4 separate regions of the Homo sapiens genome follow, and all the other regions are linked to region 4. The links come from fine-mapping of genetic effects on gene expression. A gene starts in region 4. Each other region holds a variant in brackets. All regions are shown on one strand. Distances are between the middles of the regions.

Evidence for each region. PIP is the estimated chance that this variant, and not a neighbour inherited with it, causes the effect.
Region 1: its variant is fine-mapped to the expression of GSTM3 in left ventricle (GTEx, PIP 0.97). The same link has a PIP of 0.9 or more in gastroesophageal junction.
Region 2: its variant is fine-mapped to the expression of GSTM3 in whole blood (INTERVAL, PIP 0.91).
Region 3: its variant is fine-mapped to the expression of GSTM3 in thyroid (GTEx, PIP 0.92).

Annotation. Positions count from the first base shown.
Region 1 is chr1:109,709,523-109,715,112 of GRCh38, reverse strand. It overlaps GSTM5 (glutathione S-transferase mu 5), which reads right to left and starts at 2,862. Exons shown (of 8, transcript NM_000851.4): 1 at 2,765-2,862; 2 at 2,420-2,495; 3 at 1,930-1,994; 4 at 1,548-1,629; 5 at 1,352-1,452; 6 at 71-166. The coding sequence starts at 2,800. The variant G/C (reference allele first, on the strand shown) is at 2,139.
Region 2 is chr1:109,671,147-109,676,830 of GRCh38, reverse strand. GSTM2 (glutathione S-transferase mu 2) reads right to left here. Exons shown (of 8, transcript NM_000848.4): 6 at 5,449-5,544; 7 at 5,248-5,358; 8 at 1,545-2,084. The coding sequence ends at 1,995. Among named protein-coding and RNA genes, the nearest start is that of GSTM2, 5.9 kb to the right of the region's middle. The variant C/T (reference allele first, on the strand shown) is at 3,017.
Region 3 is chr1:109,759,251-109,764,855 of GRCh38, reverse strand. It overlaps EPS8L3 (EPS8 signaling adaptor L3), which reads left to right and starts at 933. Exons shown (of 19, transcript NM_133181.4): 1 at 933-1,034; 2 at 3,083-3,137; 3 at 3,297-3,361; 4 at 5,020-5,178; 5 at 5,469-5,605. The coding sequence starts at 3,107. It overlaps LOC124904258 (a long non-coding RNA gene), which reads right to left and starts at 4,991. Exons shown (of 2, transcript XR_007066303.1): 1 at 4,906-4,991. RefSeq lists an enhancer at 3,561-4,290. The variant G/A (reference allele first, on the strand shown) is at 3,549.
Region 4 is chr1:109,738,485-109,744,168 of GRCh38, reverse strand. It overlaps GSTM3 (glutathione S-transferase mu 3), which reads left to right and starts at 3,131. Exons shown (of 9, transcript NM_000849.5): 1 at 3,131-3,216; 2 at 3,658-3,929; 3 at 4,261-4,336; 4 at 4,676-4,740. The coding sequence starts at 3,882. RefSeq lists a silencer at 3,692-3,921.

The DNA.
Region 1 (5,590 bases), 29 kb after region 4:
TGTGTGGGCTGAAAACCCCGAAACACATGAAGTAAAACAGATCTCATTCCCCATATCACTCCTCCTTTACCTTGTCTCCTGCAAACCATGGCCGCTTCCCCAGAAACTCTGAGTAGAGCTTTAGCTTTTCAGGGAGTTCCTCCAAGTATTTTGGCTTCAGTTTCTCCTGAGGCAGAAAACAGCTGTCACCACCCTCAGACAAAAGCTCCCTGCACAGACGTGGCCTCCCCAGGGCTGTAGATGGCCCAGGCTGGCCACAGGCAAGCAGCCATCTTCCCCACAACTAAAACCGGGGCAGTGCCCAGGCTTCAATTGGATACATCAGCATTTATTAGACTCTGACTGGGTGCCAGACCCTATCTGAAGTGATCAGAATGAGATGCTCTTCCTGAATCTGTCCTCACTGGCCTCCCAATAGCCTCTGGGTCAGCCGCATGAGCGCCCGAGCACCTGGCAGCCTCTGGATCCAGACAGGGGCAGAATCAAGGATGCAAAGAACTAAAGGAGCTCAGGGAAAGAAGTAGAAAGTTCCTTCTAATGGGGTGACAGAAGAAAACAATGAACATTGACTAGTTTCCAGGGAGATGAGAAGTTCAAGTTGAAAGGAAGGAGGGAGAGGAATAAAGGCCCTCTGGCTGCCTCTGAGCTGTCTGTTATGAAAATGCGCAGATCCCGGTGCATGTCAATGACAGCACTTGGAAAACTTTGAGGAGAAGATGCAATTTGAGGGTGCCATTACATTCCTTGGTCTTGTACTTGAGTCTGTATATTCTAGGAGCAGGTAGGTGATATAAATCAACTGACAGAAATGACCCATGACAGAGGCCAGAGGCCAGAGGAGATGAAGGAGATTCTGAACACAAATTTTACCATCTAGGAATTGAATTTCCACCGTGGGATGCCTGGATCGTGTCCTAAGATTGGTGGGAATTGCCTCTGCTTTTGTTGACATGACATTGGAGTCGTGAGAATAACTGCTGATAGTATGGGAAAGCACTTGGAGGATGAGTGGTACCAAGGACTTAAGAAAAGACCAGTGCGTGCAGGAATGCAAGAGTCCTGGCCCCAAATCCAAACTCTGCCAGGTGCAGCTCACTGGGGAGACTCACAAACTCTGGGTGGTAGCAGATCATGACCAGTTGCATCCAGTTGTCCGTGGTCTGGTTCTCCAAAATGTCCACAAGAATCTTCAGAAGAGGAGAAGATTCGTGTGGACATTTTGGAGAACCAGGTTATAGACGTCTCCAGTCAGCTGGCCGGAGTCTGCTACAGACCTGACTTTGGAAGTCCCTCCCTGGTCTGGGCCAAAAGGCAGGGAAATGGGTGACTGGGAGTGGGGTGTGGGACTCACAAAATCTGGGTCATAGCACAGTCTGACCAGCTCCATGTGGTTATCCATAACCTGGTTCTCCAAAATGTCCACACGAATCTTCTCCTCTTCTGTCTCCCCACCTGCCACCCACAAAACACAGACTCAATCTCAGCATCACAGCCCAGCCAAGGAGGAGGTCACCTTCCCCCCGCACATTGCAGCCACCCACACTCACACAGGTTGTGCTTGCGGGCAATGTAGCGCAGGATGGCATTGCTCTGGGTGATCTTGTGAGCCCCATCAATCAAGTAGGGCAGCTGGATAGATGGGAAACCGGGGAAGCTCAGTTGGGCCACCAGGCTCCCCAGCATCCCCTTCCCATATGCAAGGGCAGAGAGGAGACCAGGGCCTGCTCATGGCAGGCCTGAGATAGAAATACTGTCACACTAATAAATGAGCTGGGACACAGAACATCATGCAAGGGCTGTGTAGACAGCCAAGAGTGAGAGGAATTGGGCAGAAGACTCCTGATCTTAACACCTCTAAGGTGGGGAGAGGAGATGCAGTCAGAGACACGTCGCACTTTCCCCCAAAACCGCCCCTTCCCCTGCACCTACATTGGGAAAGTCCAGGCCCAGCTTGAATTTTTCATTCAGCCACTGGCTTCTGTCATAGTCAGGAGCTGTGGTGGGGAAGAAGTGAAAACAAACCTCCCCAGAGCCCAGCCCTCCTTCCCGGGGACCCTCCCAAGGAGCCAGTGGCAAGATCCCTGAGACAGGTGGATCTAGAATCTGACCACTCAGTCCCACATCCCAGGGTTCAGGGA[G/C]AAAGAATCCCACTGAGGGCTCTGGACCCCACAACGGCTAAGGCTTCCAGGGTTTAGGGAAGCTCTGAGGGACACCCAACCCAATTAGACAGGGTGTCCAGCATCCCGCCCCAGCATTCTGCCTTGCAAGGCCAGAGGGCTCACTCACGGGAGCTCAGGGAAGGGACAGCCTGCAGCTCCAGCAGGGGAGGCCTGCAGAGGCAGCCACAGGTGGCCACCATGGGTTGCTTGGTGCCAACTCAGCGTGAGTGGGCAGGGCCCGGACACGAGGGTGCCATTACCGTCCCCCAGCGTGTACTTCTTTTCCACATAGCTTGAGTCTGTGTATTCCAGGAGCAAGCGGATGGCGTGGGCCAGCTGGGAGAGATGGCCCGCGGCTCGGGTCAGAGATGGAGGGTCCCTGACTTGGTGACTTTCTCTGCACCAGGCCAGCCCCTAGTCTATACTGCACGTACCCGTCGCCTCCTCTACCCGCCCCCACCCCCAAACACACACACAGCGTCATGCACAGGCCCTTCTGAGGCGGGCAGCCCTGAAGAGGAACGGTCCCTAGAGCCAGTCCTGCAGCTACTCCACACATCCCCGCCTCCGCCCCCTGTCCCACCCACCAGAGGACCCTCGCTTACCCCACGGATGTCCCAGTACCCCAGAGTCATGGGCATGGTGCTGGTTGGTGCGGATTCTGCAGACAGGCATCAGCGGAGCGGGGCTCAGACTTTGAGAGGCCCAGGAGGGGACAGGCGGGGCCTTGCTGCGACCCCGCCCCTCGGCCCGCCACAACCCCGAAACACGCCATTCTGTAGGCCCCCGAGCGAGCGCCCGGGGCTGGAATCAATAAGCCCCCTCCCGCCTCCCAGTCCCCAGGGTTCCGGGAGCGAGGTCAGGGCGCCCAGAAGCCCAAAGCGGGGCTCGGCCTCGCCAGCTTCCCCAACCCGCCCTGAGGCTCCATGAGTCCATCCAGCCCTTGCTAGGTCCACAGCGACTTGGCTGTGCGCTTGAGACACCAGCCAGATCCTAACGGAGCAAAGCTCTTCTCCCTTCTCCTCCCTGCCCGCAGAATCCCTCAGCCTTCTCTCCGCTGCCGAGTTCCCAAGGGCTCTGGGAGACTCCGGCTGCAGGGGTCAGACTAAAAAGTGGTGGTCCCAACCTGGGAATTTAATTCAGCCCCTGTCACTGTAAGAGCAGGACTTCCTCTGATCCGAAAGCTACTCCGAGGGCTTAGTCTCCCCTCTAGCCCCGCCTACACAGGAACAGTGTCAGTGGTATAGGAAGGACCCCCAGGAAAAGGGCCAGAGTAAAGGAAATGTGGTCTGTGTTTTCTGTTAGGGGCCTTTGGATACTGAGTCCTTCGGTCATCTGGCTAAGTACTATGTAAATTAGCCACTTCGTATTTTGGCACAATTTATGAATCGAAATCCAAGGATCAGATCCAGCAAGTTGGTGAGGTATCTGAGGTGCCCCCTAGAAATGTCCAGCCAGTCCACTAGGTGAACCTCACAGAGACCGGAACAGCAACAGCAACAGTGAGTGCAGTGGCCACAGAGAGCAGGCGAGGGAGGATGGAAGAACTTCCCGGACCAAACTGAGGGTCCGGCTGCTATTTCTCTAGGCCCAATAACGAGATGCAGATCAAATGGGGAGGAAGAGAGGTTTTATTTCTGCAACCAGTTACAGGGAGAAGGCCTGGAAATTACTACCAGACCAACTCAAAATTAAAGTTTTCCAGAGCATATATACCTTCTAAGGTATATGTCTACAAGTAAGTGTGCATTCATCTAAAGACATAAGTGATTAACTTCTTTAATCTGTAACTGAGGTCTGGGTCCTGAGGACCTTACTCTGGAGCCTCAGTCTATTTACTTAATCTAAATGGGTCCAGGTGCGGGGGATGATTGCCCTTATCTTGTCTCCTGCTAAATCATGGAGGTTTGGGGAGTTCCTTCAGATGCCCAGTAAACTTGTTTGTGGAGGCCTGGGGAGTTTCTTCAGACTCACAATAAAACTTGTTTAATTCTAAATAGGTCCTGTTAAGAATTCCTTCGTTGTTTTGTCATGCTTTAAGGCCCAGGAAAGGCCTAAGCAAAACTCTTGGTGGGCTTTTGTTACATCCAGCCTCTGTATAAAGGTACTGGCTTTTTTCAGCTTTTAATATTTAATTTCATCACTCAGTCAGTACTGAAACAGTTGTTATGGAGGCCTGTGTTAGTGACACCTGGTCTGCCACAGAACCTGTCCCTCAGAGAAGCCAGAACCCTGTCCTGCTGAGGAGGGAGGTCAGAGGATGGTGGCCAGAGAGGAGCCTGAGGGCTCCCCACAGGATCACAGGCAGGGACTCTCCCCTCTCCAGATCCACCATGCCGGACCTGGACCTGGCTCCTGACCCATGTGTGTTCTTCAGTATGAGACGGTGGCTCCAGTGGCCTTTGAAGTCACACCGTGATATGTGACCCATGGTACAACCTCCGCAAGAACAATGTCCAACCTGCCAACTTTCTTCTTTCAAGGTAGAAGGAAGACTTTCAAAAGAGTTGTGCAATGGATTAGCCTGGGGTTGACTGCTTTTTTTAAAGGATATTACAAATAATAATGGATATATGGAAATAGATGATAGACCTTTAATGAGAAATCATTTTGCAATGTAAACCAGGCTGTTGTGCTGCAAAAAAAGTAGTTTTTTGTTTTTTGTTTTTGTTTTTGTTTTTTTGTAAATTAGCTAAAACATTGTTAGGACTCCAGAGGATGAACCCAGTATATCAAAAAAGTTTCAAACCACCTGGATAATGTGTGGTTTGGGGTTGAGTAAACAGGTAGACTTCATCACATCCCTATTAGGCCACAGAAATCAGGTGGTCAGCAGGTGGCTGCTAAGTTGGGGCACTTGGACACTGTGTCACTGAGGCTGGCAAGGCACAGTCCTTGTTGCAAACACTCCCCACCCATCCAGACCTGGGCAGTACTCCCAGCTCAGATACCTGGCAGGTATCCATGTTTAGGAAGCAGTTTTGGCCTCACAGTGAATTCTCACATAGATTTTCCTGCATTGAGGCAATAGCACCAGCACAGACACAAGTGCCTGGCCCTAGGAATCATTATATTTCTCATTATGCATTAAGAGTTTATGATTTTGAGTTAATGGGTCTTGAGCTGTGAAAGATAAGATGTCTAGATCCAATTGATAAAAACGATTTTTTAAGAAAGCTAACACTCATGAGAATAATAATTTTGAAACACATAGAACCAGTACTGTTACATTAGTATTGTTTGAAATACTTGTTCCTTGGTTCCATAAAGAAATAGCACTTGAACATAAATTTAATTTCCTCAGCAAGGCTATCGGGGAAACTGCCCCCAGTATTTCAACATAGGTTCTATTTTCCATAAGTGTCAGCTGGCTGAGAAATAAAGAGAAAGAGTACAAAGAGAGGAATTTTACAGCTGGGCCGCCAGGGGTG
Region 2 (5,684 bases), 67 kb after region 4:
TTTTAAGTTACTTCAACAAGAGGCAATGCAGATTGCTGTCAGGGTGGAGGAAGCCTATGCTTAGCATGTTCCTGCAAGGATGTGAATCAAGAAGAGATCAACCTGTAGATCCCCACACAGCCTTTGGAATTATAGACCTCAGAATGACAAACAGAAAAAGCGTAAAAAAGCAAAAGATATAGCCAGGCAGAGTGGCTCACGCATGTAATTCCAGAACTTTGGGAAGCCGAGGTGGGTGGATCACGAGGTCAGGAGTTCGAGACCAGCATGGCCAACATGGTGAAAACCCGTCTCTAAAACAAAAATACAAAAATCGGCTGGGCACAGTGTGCACGCCTGTAGTCCCAGCTACTCGGGAGGCTGAGGAAGGAGAATTGTTTGAACCCAGGAAGGGGAGGTTGCAGTGAGACGAGATCACACCACCACACTCCAGCCTAGGCGACAGAGTAATACTTCCTCTCAAAATAACAACAATAATAATAATTTTTAAAAAGCAAAGGATGCAGTCAGACTGGCATCGACCTACTCACCAGAAATGCTCAATTCTAGAAAAAAGTGAATAAATCTATTAGAAGTCTGAAGGTTTTCATCATAGAATTCTATCCCCAGCTGATATGGTTTGGCTGTGTCCCCACCCACATCTTACCTTGAATTGTAATAATCCCCAGGTGTCAAGGGTGGGGGCCGGGTGCAGAAAACTCCATCATGGGGGCAGTTTCCCCCATACTGTTCTCACGGTAGTGAATAAGTCTCACAAGATCTGATGGTTTTATAAGTGGGAGTTCCCCTGCACACGCCCTCTTGCCTGCTGCCATGTAAGACATTACTTTGGTCCTCATTCGCCTTCTGCCATGGTTATGAGGCCTCCCAGGCCCTGTGGAACTGTGAGTCCTTTAAACCTCTTTCCTTTATCAATTACCCAGTCTCGGGTATGTCTCTATTAGCAGCGTGAGAACAGACTAAATCCTCAGCCAGAGTATTCAGTAAGCATGTAAAGGCACTTTCAGTTATGCAAGGACTAAAGACATTTCTCTCACAGGTACCCAGGAAAGAGAGGAAGTAAACCCAGAGAGAACGTCCTGATGACAGCTGTGCAGCAAGCCTGGAGAGGGTACCTGGAAGCCATCTGAGAAAAACAATAGAGATTGGGTCCTGGAGACCTAACAGAAGTGATGCAGTCATATAGTGGAGAAGGTAAAAGGGACCCTGGTTCTCTCTGATGGAGATTCCACCCCCTTGGGGTCCTATTCAATGAGACACAAGCTCTGTGCAATTATGGAAAGTACTCAATACGGCTGGATGAATGAATGGGAGATCCAGGCCAAGAAAGAGACATCCTTTCCACAGTGCCTCATGGGGCTTCCTGCTCTGAGTCTCTCAGGAATGGGAGCAAGAATTCTCAAGCGCCTTACTATGCCCAGCAGAATCCTTTAGAACCCAGCCACTGCCAGGATCACCAGCCAGTCCCTTGGAAGAGGCAGTGACAGACAGACAGACAGTCTGGGTAGATGGCCAGGAGCAAATAAGACAAGACACACAGCAAATGTGGTTGAGGCTTTACTTCCATCAGGTAGGCCTAAGGCAGGGACCATGCTGCAGGAGCAGGGCCTGTAAACCAGTCAATGCTGCTCCTTCATGCAACACGGGGACAGCTCGGGGCTGAGCTCCACAGGCGAGGGGCCAGGCAGGCCCTTTAAAGCAGACACAACCACTAACAGGAAGGAAGGTCAGGCTGGCTTTAGTGCAGGGAAGGGTAATGATGGGAGGGGATGTTCACGAAGGATAGTGGGTAGCTGAGGCTTCAAAGGGCCTGCATGGGACAGGGGTTTAGGGGGAGTGAAGAGGGACAATGAAGTCTTGGGAGTAAAGATGGGAATAAACAGGAGAAAGGAACGAGGAGGCAGGTGCTGGGATGCAGAGTCCAGCTGCGCTGCACAGCCTGGGCAGCAGGCTGAGTATGGGCTCCTCACTCCCACCTCCTGGCCTTCAAGGCCCTACTTGTTGCCCCAGACAGCCATCTTTGTGAACACAGGTCTTGGGAGGAAGCGGCTGGACTTCATGTAGGCAGAGATCTTCTCCAAGCCCTGAGAGGGGGGAAAATAAGGCCAGAACTCAAGGTCAGCTGCCCATGAGGGCTGGCACAACCCCACTGCAGACACAGCAGGTCAGGGCCCTGGCCACAGCCTTTCCATGTGGGCTCAAGTGCTGAGGCATCACACAGCTTCTTAGGGTCCCCAGATCTGCGGAGTTAACTCTTCCAACTTCCTTTAAGTAATGTTGTACCACAGTAACAGCTAACACTTATGAAGATTCTACACGGTGCTGGGTGCTCTGTACCCAAGAGAAATTACAACGTAAGCTTAGAAAACCCACTCGACTACTCTGCAAGGCTGAATCTATTATCACCATTTGTCATGTGGGAAACAGAAGTTCAGCAACTTCCTTACATTTAAATACCTAGTAAGGGGAATAGAACTTCAATGTAGCCTGGTTCTGTCTCTCTCCAGTTCTGGCCTCTTTCTGCCAAATTCTCTTCTTCTTCTGCCCCACCACCCCTCACACCAGGCCCTGTCACTCCTTGACTGCACAAACAGTCTCCTTTTCCACAGGGAGGCTCTTGGCTTGTCTGGGTATAGAGACACAGAAGGGACCTCCAGCAGAACAAAGGGGCTCTGAACACACTCACCCAATGTCTCAGTAAAACCTGGATGAAAGTGGAATGGGGAGTGGCAGTGCACAAGAAAATCAAAGGCGAGACTAGGCTCTAATCATTCCCCTTAAAGCAGAAAGTCCAAGGTTCTCCATCTGGTATCTTAGCAAAATCTCACTGTGCCCTAACCCATGGCATCTCCAGCCCTGCTGCAGATCAGGCTACATGACACTCAGATGTGCTGTGCACAATCTTACCAGGATTGAATGCCCAGATAAGGTATTCAAAAACATCCGGCTCACACCTGTAATCCCAGCACTTTGGAAGGCCGAGACGAGTGGATCACCTGAGGTCAAGAGTTGGAGA[C/T]CAGCCTGGCCAACATGGTGAAAACCCATCTCTACTAAAAATACAAAAATTAGCTGGTCATGGTGGCGGGCACCTGTAATCCCAGCTACTTGGTAGGCTGAGGCAGAGAATTGCTTGAACCCAGGAAGCGGAGGTTGCAGTGAGCCAAGATCGCACCAATGCACTCCAGCCTGGGTGACAGGCTTGACCCTGGCACATAACGGGCCATAGCTCTCAGCTCTCCTCCATCCCTCCCTTCCCACCACCTCTTACCTAACTCCAAGGCCACTCAGCCTGGACCAGAACCGCAGAACCAGAGCTGATGGGAACTAGCTGAGCAAGCAGATCTCTTGATGGGGAGTGGAAAAGGGAAACAGATTCAAGGCTCAGAAGCCTGTTGGACAAATGCCTCAAATCCCCAAATCTGTAGTAATGTAGGATTTGCTGCTCTCAAACAAGTTCAGCACACACTTCACAGGCTGCTCTGCCTGCAGGCCTCTCACTGCACTCATTTCCAGGATGGGGCTGTCATCTATGCATCTCCCACTGTGCCTCACACCCTGCCTCATGCAGAGGAGAAGGTCAGTGAACAGGAGTAAAATCAGCGTGCTACTCATCTCACAGGGGGAACACCTGGAACATTGGAGGGAAAAAAAGAGAGGAAGAGGCCAGGCGCGGTGGCTCACGCTTGTAATCCCAGCACTTAGGGAGGCTGAGGTGGGTGGATCACCTGAGGTCAGGAGTTTGAGACCAGCCTGGCCAACATAGCAAAACCCCATCTCTACTAAAAATACAAAAATTAGCTGGACGTGGTGGTACACACCTGTAATCCCAGCTACTCAAGAGGCTGAGGCAGGAGAATCACTTGAACCCAGGAGACAGAGGTTGCAGTGAGCCGAGATTGCTCCACTGCACTCCGGCCTGGGTGACAGAGCAAGACTCCGTCTCAAAAAAAAAAAAAAAAAAAGAGGTAGAGAAGGAAAGTGCTCCAGCACAGGGCATTTCAGCATAAGCTCCTTCAACAGGGGCACCCACATATGTACCTTAATCCAGCTCCAGCCACAGCCCTGGCTCTCAGGATTCCCCACATGGGGGTTCAATCATACAAAGTTTCTGGGTGTAGCTGTGAATACTGCCTGTGGGTTCAGTATTGAACATCAATGCTACTGTGTGTCAGTCCTACTATTGCCAGCTGCATCCGTGGTCCTGAAGTGCTCTGCCTCTTCCAAAGTGTCCTGGGCTATGAAACCCAGGCTGGACAAGGCCTGAGGCTTTTCTTTTGTCACAAAACGGAGAGCCCTGACTGCCAACCATAGATCCAGAGGCTCGCAGGGAGCCCAGCACAGCCTCCACTGGCTCTGGGACCCTGAGCAAAGGACTGACCCTCTCATTCTCAGTTTCTTTGTCTCTAAAATGGGGGAGATAATTCTACCACCCTGTAGGAATGTTGTAAATTTCAAATTCAACACAATAGGTATAATGTGCTGGGTACAGTTCGTGGCATGAAGCCAGCACTCAATAAATGCAAGTTATTCTTTTCTTCTTTTTTTTGTTTGAGATGGAGTTTCACTCTTGTTGCCCAGGCTGGGGTGCAATGGCACGATCTTGGCTCACCGCAACCTCCGCCTCCCAGGTTCAAGAGATTCTCCTGCCTCAGCCTCCCTAGTAGCTGGGATTATAGGCATGTGCCACCACGCCCAGCTAATTTTGTATTTTTAGTAGAGACAGGGGTCTCACCATGTTGGTCAGGCTGGTCTCGAACTCCCGACCTCAGGTGATCCACCCAACTCGGCCTCCCAAAATGCTGGGATTACAAGTGTGAGCCACCATGCCCGGCTCCTTTTTTTTTTTTTTTTTTTTTTCTTGAGATGGAGTCACACTCTGTCATACAGGCTGGAATGCAGTGGCACGATCTTGGCTCACTGCAACTTCCACCTCCCAGGTTCAAGTGATTCTCCTGCCTCAGCCTCCCAAGTAGCTGGGATTACAGGTGCTCGCCACCACGCCCAGCTAATTTTTGTATTTTTTTTTAGTAAAGATGGGGTTTTGCCATGTTGGGCAGGCAGGTATCAAACTCCTAACCACAGGTGATCTGCCTCCCTCAGCCTCCAAAGCGCTGAGATTACAGGCGTGAGCCACCGCACATGGCCAAAAATGTGAGTTATTCTTTGTGTAGCTCCAGGACTGGGAAAGCATCACAAAGGAGGGAAAGGAATAAGAGACATAAAGAGAAAGGAGGCTGGGGGCATCACCTCAAATCGGGAGATGAAGTCCTTCAGGTTTGGGAAGGCATCCAGGCAGCTGGGCTCAAATACTTGGTTTCTCTCAAGGACATCATAAGCGATGAAATCCACAAAGGTGATCTGGATAAGGCCAAGGATATGTGGGCTGAAACCTCCATAATATAGGAAGTATGACAAATCTGTGGTGTCCCCATCACACGCCCCCATTACCTTGTCCCCAAGAAACCATGGCTGCTTCCCCAGAAACTGTGAGTAGAGCTTCAGCATTTCAGGGAGTGCCTGCAGGTATTCTGGTTTCAGTTTCTCCTGAGGCAGAAAACAGCTGTCAACACCCTCAGACACAAGCTCCCTGCACAGATGCGGCCTCCCAGTTTTGTGCATGGCCCCAGCTGGCCGCGGGCAAGCAGTCATCTTCCCCACAGCTGGAACTGGGTCACTGTCCAGGC
Region 3 (5,605 bases), 21 kb before region 4:
GACACTCCATCACAGGGCCCAGCACCGGGACCCTGCATTCTGCCCACGAGGGTCCGAGGCTCACTGGCACTCCCCCGCCCCCGCCTCCCCTCCTGCCCTGCTCCCTGGTTTCTGTTTATACCTGGCCTTGTTGGTTAGACTGTGAGTTCCCAGAGGGCAGGGGAGCCTGGCCCACTCTGAGTGCCAAGAAAGATTTTTCGATACCATGGAGTGCAGGAAGTGGGTAGGTTTATGACTAGAGATAGATGCAGGCCTCCGTTTTCCATCTTTGCTGAAGCTGGCCAGGCGTCCACCAGGGGTCTGGGCACAAGATGGGGTACAGAAGGAAAGAGAGTGGAAGAGCGAGAAAGGGCTGGTAAGGGGGCTCCTGCTGGAAGGGACAACAGTAGGGACAGAATGAGGGCCCTGCCAGAGGGAATCTCAGCGCTCCATGTAATGCCCCAGGGGCCTCAGTCCCCATCTTCTGTGACAAGATCCATGTCCTGCTCACAGGCACCACCCAGGTACACAGGATCACACACCTATGGGTGCCACCCACGCACAGGCATGGCACACACGCCAGCCCACAGCTTCCCCCAAGCCTGGAGTCCACCTCCAGCCGACCTGTGCCCTCACCACAGAACCCAGACTCTGGGCCATGTGTGCTCTCTTCTTCTGGTCCCAGCCCCGTGCCTGATGCTGACCTGTTCCCCAGAGTAGGCACCTAAAAGGCAGAGGGAAGAGGGGGCCACACCCCAAGGCTAGCAGTGGGGGAAACAGGGAAGCAGGGGCCTCTAGCTAAGCTGGGGACGCCAGTCAGCACAGACACTGCCGCAGGTCCAGGTTGATGTTGAGCGGTTAGTGACCAGGAAGCCTCCCCACCCACCAGAGTCCAAAGAGCACAGGCGTGGCTGCCTCTGTAACCTCATCAAAGGCAGGCTCTGCCTGTGGCCACTAGCAGAGAAGCTGCTGTCCTTCCACCACCAGCACCGGACCACCTGCTCCAAGACCAGCCTCCTGGGGGGACCAGGCACCCGGCCTTCACTGGCACCCAGGTAAGGGCCTGGCCCCCAGGGAAGATCGGGGCCCAGCCCAGTCACAGGGGATCTCAGGGCAGGTGGGGGCAACTCAGTGGCTTCCCAGGCCAGGTCTCCAGCCTGTTCCCAGCTGCAGCCCAGGGGATCAAGCCCAAGGAGGGGCTTGGGACTCAGCAGCTGGCTGGTGGGCTGGAAAGCAGAGCGAGGTCCAGGCTCCGGAAGGGCCTCTGGGATGCTTGCCCCAGGGTCTATGAGGTGATGGCCTTCCCTGCTCCAAACCCCTACATCTAGGGCTTAAAGGGGGGAAATGGGCTGTCACAGCTCCCCTACCCCTAAGGGGCAAGGCAGGCCAAGCCAGCTCCCTCTTCCCTCCCTGGGGTAGGGAATCTTTGGCTGCAGCTGTTTCCCCACCTTGACCTACCTACCTAGAGGGCCCCACAGGGCCCACCCTGGTGTTGAGGGAGTGGGGAGTGGGGCTGACCAGGGGCAGACCTCACTTCCTCTTCTGCATGGAGAGCATGGAGAAGCAGGAAGTGTTACAATGGGGGTTGGGGGAGGCTGGGGAAGGGGAACAGGCTTCTAGCCCCGCCTTACCCCTGGAGAGAAAAGGGGTCCTCCCAAACAAGGAAACCAGAGATCCAGCCGTCCCTTCCACATTCCCTTAATTGTTCACTGGCAGTTTATTTCCTTCCACACTGAGTCATCTTATCAGATCCTACGTCATTTTCACAACAGTCCTAATAAACAAGGGTATGGGTTGCTCTCTCACATGTTACCCGGGGTAGTCCAGTATTTCTGCACAACTGAGGTGTACCATGTAGACATGTGGATACCCACAAACCTCATTTGGATAACACATACCCTTGACCCGCACAGACTAACACCACCCCCACCCGGGACACACACACCACATTTAATTCCACTCCATTTCAACATGTATGTTCTCTAGACTCCCTCTGTGACTGCGCACAGCCCAGCGGCAGAGGCATGTTTATAAACCATTAAAACACGAAGCTTGCAATCGGACAGATCTGGGTTGCTCTCTATTAAACGTTCATTTGTGACCTCAGGCCTGTTACCGTCTTTGAGCCTCAGAGTCCTCATATGGTAAATGGGGACAATACCAGTACCTGCCTTGTGAGGTTGTTTTGAGGATTAGAGTGACTGAAGGTAACGCCGTTAGAACAGTGCTAGGCACGTGGCGCCAAGTAAGTACAAGTGGACGGCAGTGAGGAGAAACTGATAGGATGTTGGTAAGGGGCTCAGCACCAGGCTCACAGCACCGTGGTGGCTATTGTGACTATTGTTGCTGGAGATAAATGTACAAGGTCCAGTGCAGCATTAGGAGGGTACCCTGGGCAGGGTGGGGTTGGATGGTCCAGGAGGGCTTCACCAAGAGGGTGATCTTTGAGCTAGAATTTAAAGGGTTGGGGTCAGGAGGGGACCTGGGCAGAGGATACAGAGTACAAAAAGCAAAGAGCCAGGAGGCCTAGGGAGACACTTGGGGGAGGTCAGCTCACTGGCGAGTCCTGCAGTGCCACCATAAGTACACACACACATGCATGCAGTCTTCCCAGAGGGTCTACAGCTGAAGAGCCAGCATCAGCGTCCTCTCAGTTTGCAGAACTGAAACAGGGTCGAACAAGAGGGCCTCCTCTGGCGGGGTCGGCTACAGAACCCTCTGCTCATCCAGCATCTTTCATACCCAGGCCCAAGATAGGATCTGAACGCAGGTCCCTGTCCATCCAGGTTTCCTGGGCTCCTTGGCATGAGCTTTATCAGCCAAACCATGGGAGGCCTGGAGCCTTCCCTGAGGCCCAGCCATGCTGTGGCCTCCCTGACCCTCCCTTCCCTCAGCCCGGGGCCTCCAGGCCCAGCCAGGATGGAGGGCTCCTCAGTGGAGGACGCTGGCTGCAGATGGCTCCGGAAAGGGCCCCTGGAGCCAGGGGCTTTGGGTCTGGTCCCAGAGGCCCCCAGTCAGAGCAATAGCAACTGTCCTGCCCTGCTGTGCCTGGTACACCTTTCCCCAGCTCTGATGGCTGCCTCTGGTTCACTTTGGGTTCTAGGGAGCCGTCCTCAGCAGCGTCAACATGTCAAGGCCCAGCAGCAGAGCCATTTACTGTAAGCTCCTGGCAGGCCCCTCTCCCGTGCCCTCCCACTGAGCCCCCAGAATGTCCCATCCTCCACTCCCCCTTCCTCACACCAACTGCCCCCAGCAGTTGCCTGAGTCTCACCTCGTTCTTCTGCCCACCTCCCGCCCCTTGCTCTGTGCCCTTGTAGTGCACCGGAAGGAGTACTCCCAGAACCTCACCTCAGAGCCCACCCTCCTGCAGCACAGGGTGGAGGTGAGTACCTCTGCAGCCCCCGGGCAGTGTCCAACTAAACCCAAGTGTTCCCATGTGCCCACCGCCCTGCCAGAACATGGACACTTCACACAAGTCCCTGCCCCAGAAGCCAACAGCCTGTCCCAACCATGTCGCATGGACTCAGATCCAACAAGCCTGCCAGAGCATCTGCTCAGTGTCAGGGACG[G/A]GGAGGGGTGGTCAGATTGAACAGAGCAGGCCTGGCTGGAGGTTGAGCGGGTGAGTGTCCTGTCCCCAGACAGGAAGAAGTAGCAGCAGGATGGGATAAGAAGCACCTACAACCACCCACCCACCTACCCTCCCCTGTCTCCCAACCCCCTGCTGCCCGAGTCCCCAGGGCACTGCTCCATTGCCCAAGACCTTGCATGGCTGGAGGCAGGAGTGTGTGGGATCTTTGGGATCTTTGGGCCCTGTGGGGGATTGAGAGGGCCACTGTTGGAGAGGGGAGGCACCTGGGCCCAAGCCTCCAGGGTGACTGTGAGCAGCTCCGAGGCTGCTCCAAGGCTAGAATGGAGTCTCTGGCTCTACCAGGGAGGATGATGCAGGCACTGCAAGATTTAGGTGCCTGAAGGGCTGTCGACACCAAGGTGAAGGCGAAGCACAGGCTACAAGGGCGTGGTGGGGAGAGCAGGCAGAGGGTCAGGCTGGAGCTCTGGGGTAGAAGCCATCCTGTCCTGGCCACCACTTGTTAGTGGCTCCAATGGAGAACAAGCAGGGAGGGAGCTGGGGCGATGGTCTGCAGGTCCCACAGGGCAGCAGGTCCCACAGGGCAGCAGAGGCAGAGCTCCCCTAGCCAGCCGAGGAGAGGCCAGGAGGACTCAGCTTCTCTGTAGGGTGGAGGCTGGGAAGAGGCTTCTTTTAGGCCCAGCAGGCAGAGCAAGAGGAGGATGGAGTTTGCTCATGATGCCAGAGTCCCCTGAATATGCTGGCAGTGCGAACACAGGGAGAAGAGCTGGGCCCTGGGCAGGGGGGTGGGGTCAAAGGGCAGGAGGCAGGCTGCATCTCCCTACCACAAGAAGCCTGGGTGGAAGGGGCCTTGTGAAGGTAATGTTTGGCTGGGAGAAGGGAGGGGGCTCCTAAAGGAGAGTGGATAACAGCAAAAAACTCCTGGATGGTCAGCCTAGCAGTAGGCAAGGACTTGAGCGGAGACTGAGATCACGATGGATATCTCCAGGCATGAACCAGGGAGAAGGAGACAGGAATGCTGGGTGAGTGAGGAGGAAGACTGGGCTGGGACTGAGTTCCCAAAAGGAACAAAGGAAGCCAGGGACAGAATCTGAGGGTCCTGTATCACCTCCAGAGGAGTTATTTGTTGGGTGGCTGGAGCCCACATCCTCCACCACCCAGCTGCCTCACCTGGCCTGGACTAGTAAAGGCCATGCCTGTCCTTCCTCCAGAGTCCTCAAACCCCTCCTGCAGCCCCTCAGACTCAGACTTGGAGGCCCTATCCCTGGCCCCAGTGCTTCGACACCGTCCCTCACATTGGCCCTGGAAAGTTGCTTTATCTGAAGCCTGGAACCTCCTACCTCAAGGGGGCCGAGGACACGTCTTCTTCCTCTTCTGCTTTTCTCTACCCAGCACGCCTGTGGTCCACCTCTCTGAGCTTTCTCCCAGTCCTAGGACTCCCCCTCTCCCTGCAGCACTTGATGACATGCAAGCAGGGGAGTCAGAGAGTCCAGGGGCCCGAGGATGCCTTGCAGAAGCTGTTCGAGATGGATGCACAGGGCCGGGTGTGGAGCCAAGACTTGATCCTGCAGGTCAGGGACGGCTGGCTGCAGCTGCTGGACATTGAGACCAAGGTCAGCCTTCCCAGCAAACCCAGTGATAGCCAGCCTGGGCTGTGGGGAAGCAAGCACTAGCTCTTGAACTCCACCCTCCATGCCCCAAAGGGCAGCCACTCTCCCCACATACAACACACACCCAAGCCTAGGAAGAGACAGGGGACAGAGGCTGGGGACAGAGGCACAAGAGTCAGGTAGATGACACCTCAGCCCTAGGCCACCAAAGGGCTAGGATGAGCTGGTCAGGAGCTCCCAGAAGCCACACCTAGCTCTGGTGGCCTCACAGTTGACCTCTCCACCTGGCCCAGGAGGAGCTGGACTCTTACCGCCTAGACAGCATCCAGGCCATGAATGTGGCGCTCAACACATGTTCCTACAACTCCATCCTGTCCATCACCGTGCAGGAGCCGGGCCTGCCAGGCACTAGCACTCTGCTCTTCCAGTG
Region 4 (5,684 bases):
AAAGCAGCATGGTACTGGTACCAAAACAGAGATATAGATCAATGGAACAGAACAGAGCCCTCAGAAATAATGCCACATATGTACAACCATCTGATCTTTGACAAACCTGACAAAAACAAGCAATGGGGAAAGGATTCCCTATTTAATAAATGGTACTGGGAAAACTGGCTAGCCATATGTAGAAAGCTGAAACTGGATCCCTTCCTTACACCTTATACAAAAATTAATTCAAGATGGATTAAAGACTTACATGTTAGACCTAAAACCATAAAAACCCTAGAAGAAAACCTAGGCAATACCATTCTGGACATAGGCATGGGCAAAGACTTCATGTCTAAAACACCAAAAGCAATGGCAACAAAAGCCAAAATTGACAAATGGGATCTAATTAAACTAAAGAGCTTCTCCACAGCAAAAGAAACTACCATCAGAGTGAACACGCAACCTACAAAATGGGAGAAAATTTTCACAACCTACTCATCTGACAAAGGGCTAATATCCAGAATCTACAATGAACTCAAACAAATTTACAAGAAAAAAACAAACAACCCCATCAAAAAGTGGGCAAAGGATATGAACAGACACTTCTCAAAAGAAGACATTTATGCAGCCAAAAAACACATGAAAAAATGCTCACCATCACTGGCCATCAGAGAAATGCAAATCAAAACCACAATGAGTTACCATCTCACACCAGTTAGAATGGCAATCATTAAAAAGTCAGGAAACGAGGTGCTGGAGAGGATGTGGAGAAATAGGAACACTTTTACACTTTTGGTGGGACTGTAAACTAGTTCAACATTGTGGAAGTCAGTGTGGCGATTCCTCAGGGATCTAGAACTAGAAATACCATTTGACCCAGCCATCCCATTACTGGGTATATACCCAAAGGATTATAAATCATGCTGCTATAAAGACACATGCACACGTATGTTTATTGCGGCACTATTCACAATAGCAAAGACTTGGAACCAACCCAAATGTCCAACAACGATAGACTGGATTAAGAAAACATGGCACATATACACCATGGAATACTATCCAGCCATAAAAAATGATGAGTTCATGTCCTTTGTAGGGACATGGATGAAACTGGAAACCATCATTCTCAGCAAACTATCGCAAGGACAAAAAACCAAACACCGCATGTTCTCACTCATAGGTGGGAACTGAACAATGAGAACACATGGACACAGGAAGGGGAACATCACACTCCAGGGACTGTTGTGGGGTGGGGGGAGGGGGGAGGGATAGCATTAGGAGATATACCTAGTGTTAAATGAGGAGTTAATGGGTGCAGCACACCAACATGGCACATGTATACATATGTAACAAACCTGCACATTGTGCACATATACCCTGAAACTTAAAGTGTAATAATAATAAAATTTAAAAAAAAGAAAGTAATGCAAAAACTGCAAAAAAAAAAAAAGAAAAAGAAAAGAAAATGGGCATAACACCTACTTCCTAAAGTTGTTGTGAAGCTTAAATTGGAATAAATTAGCTAACATACGTAAACACTTAGATATTGCCTGGCATATGATAGGTGCTCAATAAATGTTAATCTTATACCTCAGGTGAATTTGTGACTGGCCTTTTGCTTTCTTGGGAGGAGAGACACAGGCATTATAAATTTCACCTGTCCATGTGGTTTGTACTCTTCCTTTCTTCTGTTTAGCAAAATGCCCTTTTAAAAAGTCCCAACCTTGCTTCAGTTGAACTGATGGGCAAATGTGATTTCCCACACCTGAGCTAGGGGATCTAGGCTCTCAGACTGCCCTGAGAGCTGTGCTGCAGAGGCCTGGCCAGAACCCTCAGAGCAGCTCCGGACTCCTTCCTCTGTCACTCCTCCACATTCAACTAGAATCCTATGTCTCCCGAGTTGACCCTGTTGCAAATCTGTGCCCCTTTTCATTTGCATGGGCCCTGCCGAAATTCAGAAGCTTAGTTCTTCCCATGACTATAGGGGCCTCGGGCAGGTCTCTTGCTCTGTCAAGGTCAAAACCCCTACTTTCCTAAATTCAACCATTGATTCTCCATCTTCATCTTACTTGATCAGCCACACTTGACATAGTTGATCACTTCTCCCTTTAAACATCTTCACATGGCTTCTGGGACCTTTTGTTTTCCTCCTACCTCCCTGGCCACTCCTTTTCAGACTCCTTTGCTGGTTTGCTCTCATTTTTCCCTAACCTTTACATGTTGATATGCCAGAGCACCTCAAACCCTTAGACCTCATCTCTGCTACTCGTGCTCCCATGGTGATCTCATCTAGTCTCTGGTTTCAAACACAGAGTGATCACTCCTGTACTTGCTGTTTCCCTTTTCCTGGAGTTCTCTCTGCCTCCTGCAGGTAGGAAGTGATTCGAGATAAGAGAGGGAGAGAACTCTTCTGGCCAGGATAGAGGGTGATTCTGAGAAGGCTTCAAGGAAGAAGTGAGCATTTGAGCACGGCTACTTGAGGAAGGCTAGGCCATGGACATTAGGGTGCAGGCAGGAGCAGAGCAAACATGCTTGTAAAAGGAACAGCAATTATTCTGTTTTATATTTATATCAGCCCATGGTGGCCCCCACAGCAGAGTGGCTTGATCTCTCACCTCCTTCAGGTCTTTGTTTAAAGATTAACTTCTCCATGAGGCCTTCTATGAACATAACCTTTAAAAACATAAATCCCCTTCCTACTGGGACTCCCCCAGTTCCCACCCTGAGACCCCCTATCTCTCTTCTCGATTTTATTTCTCTCCATAGGATGTGTATCACCACCTGACTTACTAGCTATTTACTATATATTAGTTTATTTCTTCCCCATTAGAATGTAAACTTCCTGAGGGCAGGGATTTTGTCTGTTGAGTTCAGTTCTGTATCCCCAGCACCTAAAACAGTGCCTGTCCATAACAGGCATGTTAAACATTGTTGGACAGATGAATGAGTGAATGAAAAATGGTAGTACCTTTCCTCCTCCAGTCCATCCTACACAAAGAGGCAAGATTAATTTCCCTAAATGCGTGAGCATTAGGAAGTGGGAGGGATTGGAGGAGGAAATTATAATAAGGAATCCATAAATTACTTAAGCCCATAAAACAAAGGTAGGAAACATTCAAGATAAGAGACCTCTTCTGGCCAGGATAGAGGTTGGTTCTGAGAAGGCTTCAAGGAATAGGCAGACATTTCAGCAAGGCTGCTGAGGAAGGATAGGCTGTGGAAATTAGGATGCAGGTAGGAGGATCACAGAGCAAACACTCCAAGGTGGGAAATGCAAGTGTGTGTAGAAGGAACAGCAAGTATTGTTGGGTTGGGCTGGCTTATGAAGTTGTGACGGGCTGAGGGAGAGACAGGACTGGAAAAGCACGTTGGGGTCAGGTTGCAGAGGTCCTTGACTGACAGAGAGGGGAGCTTGGTCTGTGGGGAATCTTCTGCTCTGTGTGGTCAGAGGCTGGTCTGACTCTCCGGCCTTGCCCCAGTCTTCCTATCCTTCATCCAGCCCCGGCTGGCTCGGTAAAAACGGCGCGAATCTCGCTCTCCCTGGGTAACTAGGGTCCCCACTGCCTGGCTAGTGGTGCTTTTCGCGTCTTCACTGGCACCATTAATGAATGAAGTCTGGCTCCCACCCGCGGGGAAGGGAGGAGCCTCAACCTCGGGTCCTTTGCTCTCCTGCAGCACTCCTGCCCGGGTCCCGCCTCGGGGTCGCCAGGCCCTGAACCCCAACGCCGGCATTAGTCGCGCCTGCGCACGGCCCTGTGGAGCCGCGGAGGCAAGGGACGGAGAACGGGGCGGAGGCGGAGTCAGGGCGCCCGCGCGTGGGCCCCGCCCCCTTATGTCGGGTATAAAGCCCCTCCCGCTCACAGTTTCCCTAGTCCTCGAAGGCTCGGAAGCCCGTCACCATGTCGTGCGAGTCGTCTATGGTTCTCGGGTACTGGGATATTCGTGGGGTGAGTGCCGTCTCAACGGTAGAGCCGCTCGGTCAAAGAGACTGACGCGGAGAGGGCGGGTCTCTGGGTCCGCGATCTCCAGCAGGAGCAGCTCTACGCGGGAGCCTTTTCGAGCTGCCGAGCCACGGATGTCGACCCCTGCCCAGCCTCTGGGATCGCGGGCCCTGTGGGGAGGGGCGGAGGAGACCACGCCGGAGCCGGGCCTAGGGGCCGCTTAACCACCGCCCCGGCAGGACGCAGGGACTCGGCAGCCCCGGGCCGGGGAACGTTAGCGGGCGGGGGTTGGGAATGGGTGGGAGCTGCGCAGTCGCTGAACCGCTGTCTTCCCCAGCTGGCGCACGCCATCCGCCTGCTCCTGGAGTTCACGGATACCTCTTATGAGGAGAAACGGTACACGTGCGGGGAAGGTAATGCCGCTCCGCGTGCCCGTGCAGCCAAGCTGGCCCTCCACCTGCCCTGGTCTTCTTACGCCCAGAGGGTGGTGGCGTCGCGCCAAGGCCGGGTGGGACGTTTGCCCCAATCTGGGTGAATAGAGACACATCCTTTATCTGGAACTGGGGGTTCTCTTTTTAACATAGCCCAAACCCGTCTTAATGCTTAACCAAATAGGGCTCAGAGGCTCAATGGTTATGCTTTTGGGGCCTGGGAATTTGAGGTATTGGGACCAAGTCATTTCTTTAGATCTTTTGCTCTTGTCAGGTGGGGTATTAAGGAGGTTGGGTCCCACTTAATTCCGTCTCTTACAGCTCCTGACTATGATCGAAGCCAATGGCTGGATGTGAAATTCAAGCTAGACCTGGACTTTCCTAATGTAAGTGGCTTTAGTAGAGGTGGCGGGCAGAAGGGAAAGCCTTCAAGTATATCCATCCTTGCCTCTCTCCTGCCTGGTACAGAAGGATGCAAAATAGGGGATCTTAACCCGGATAGAATAAATAGAATTCAGGGGTCCTTGAACTGGATGGATATGTATTTTCATTCCCATTAACCACTAGCAAAAGTTATTTCCTTTTATTGTGAAGAGAGACAATAAGTGACATTGGTTATTAGCCATGTCTGTCACTTTGTCACTAGTAGAAATCAGGTATTTTCTTTTTTGTGTGTTTCTTGTTCTTTTGTTTTGAGACAGTGTCTCACTCTGTCGCTCAGGCTGGAGTGCAGTGGCGCAATCACAGCTCACTGCAGCCTCAACCTCCCAGGCTCAAGCAGTCCTCCCACCTCAGCCTCCCAAGGAGCTGGGACTACAGGCACACACCACTATGCCCAGCTAATTTTTGTATTTTTGTAAGAGACGGGGTTTTGCCATGTTACCCAGGCTGATCCTGAACTTCTGGGCTCAAACAGTCCTCCCACCTCGGCCTTCCAAAGTGTTGGGATTACAGGCATGAGCCACTGTGCCCAGCCTGAAATCAGGTAGTTTCATATTCTATAACATGCGTTGCAGATATTTTAAGTGATATTTATATACATGTAAGTAAATATATACATATAATGTTATTTACTTTGAGATTATGTTAGTCATTACATCTGCTTGCTATTTAATGCACTAATAGGCACATGTTACTCTTATTTGAATTTTTAAAAATATTTTTTGATTGTGTAAATTATCTATTTTGCTTCATGCATTTAACAACTTTATTCTGAGAAAAGGTCCATGGCATGCACATACACTCACACATACACACACCAATTTAAGAACCCCTGTCTAGAATCTTGTGGACCCAGTTGCTACCTTCTACTTATTTTCTTTTTTCTCCT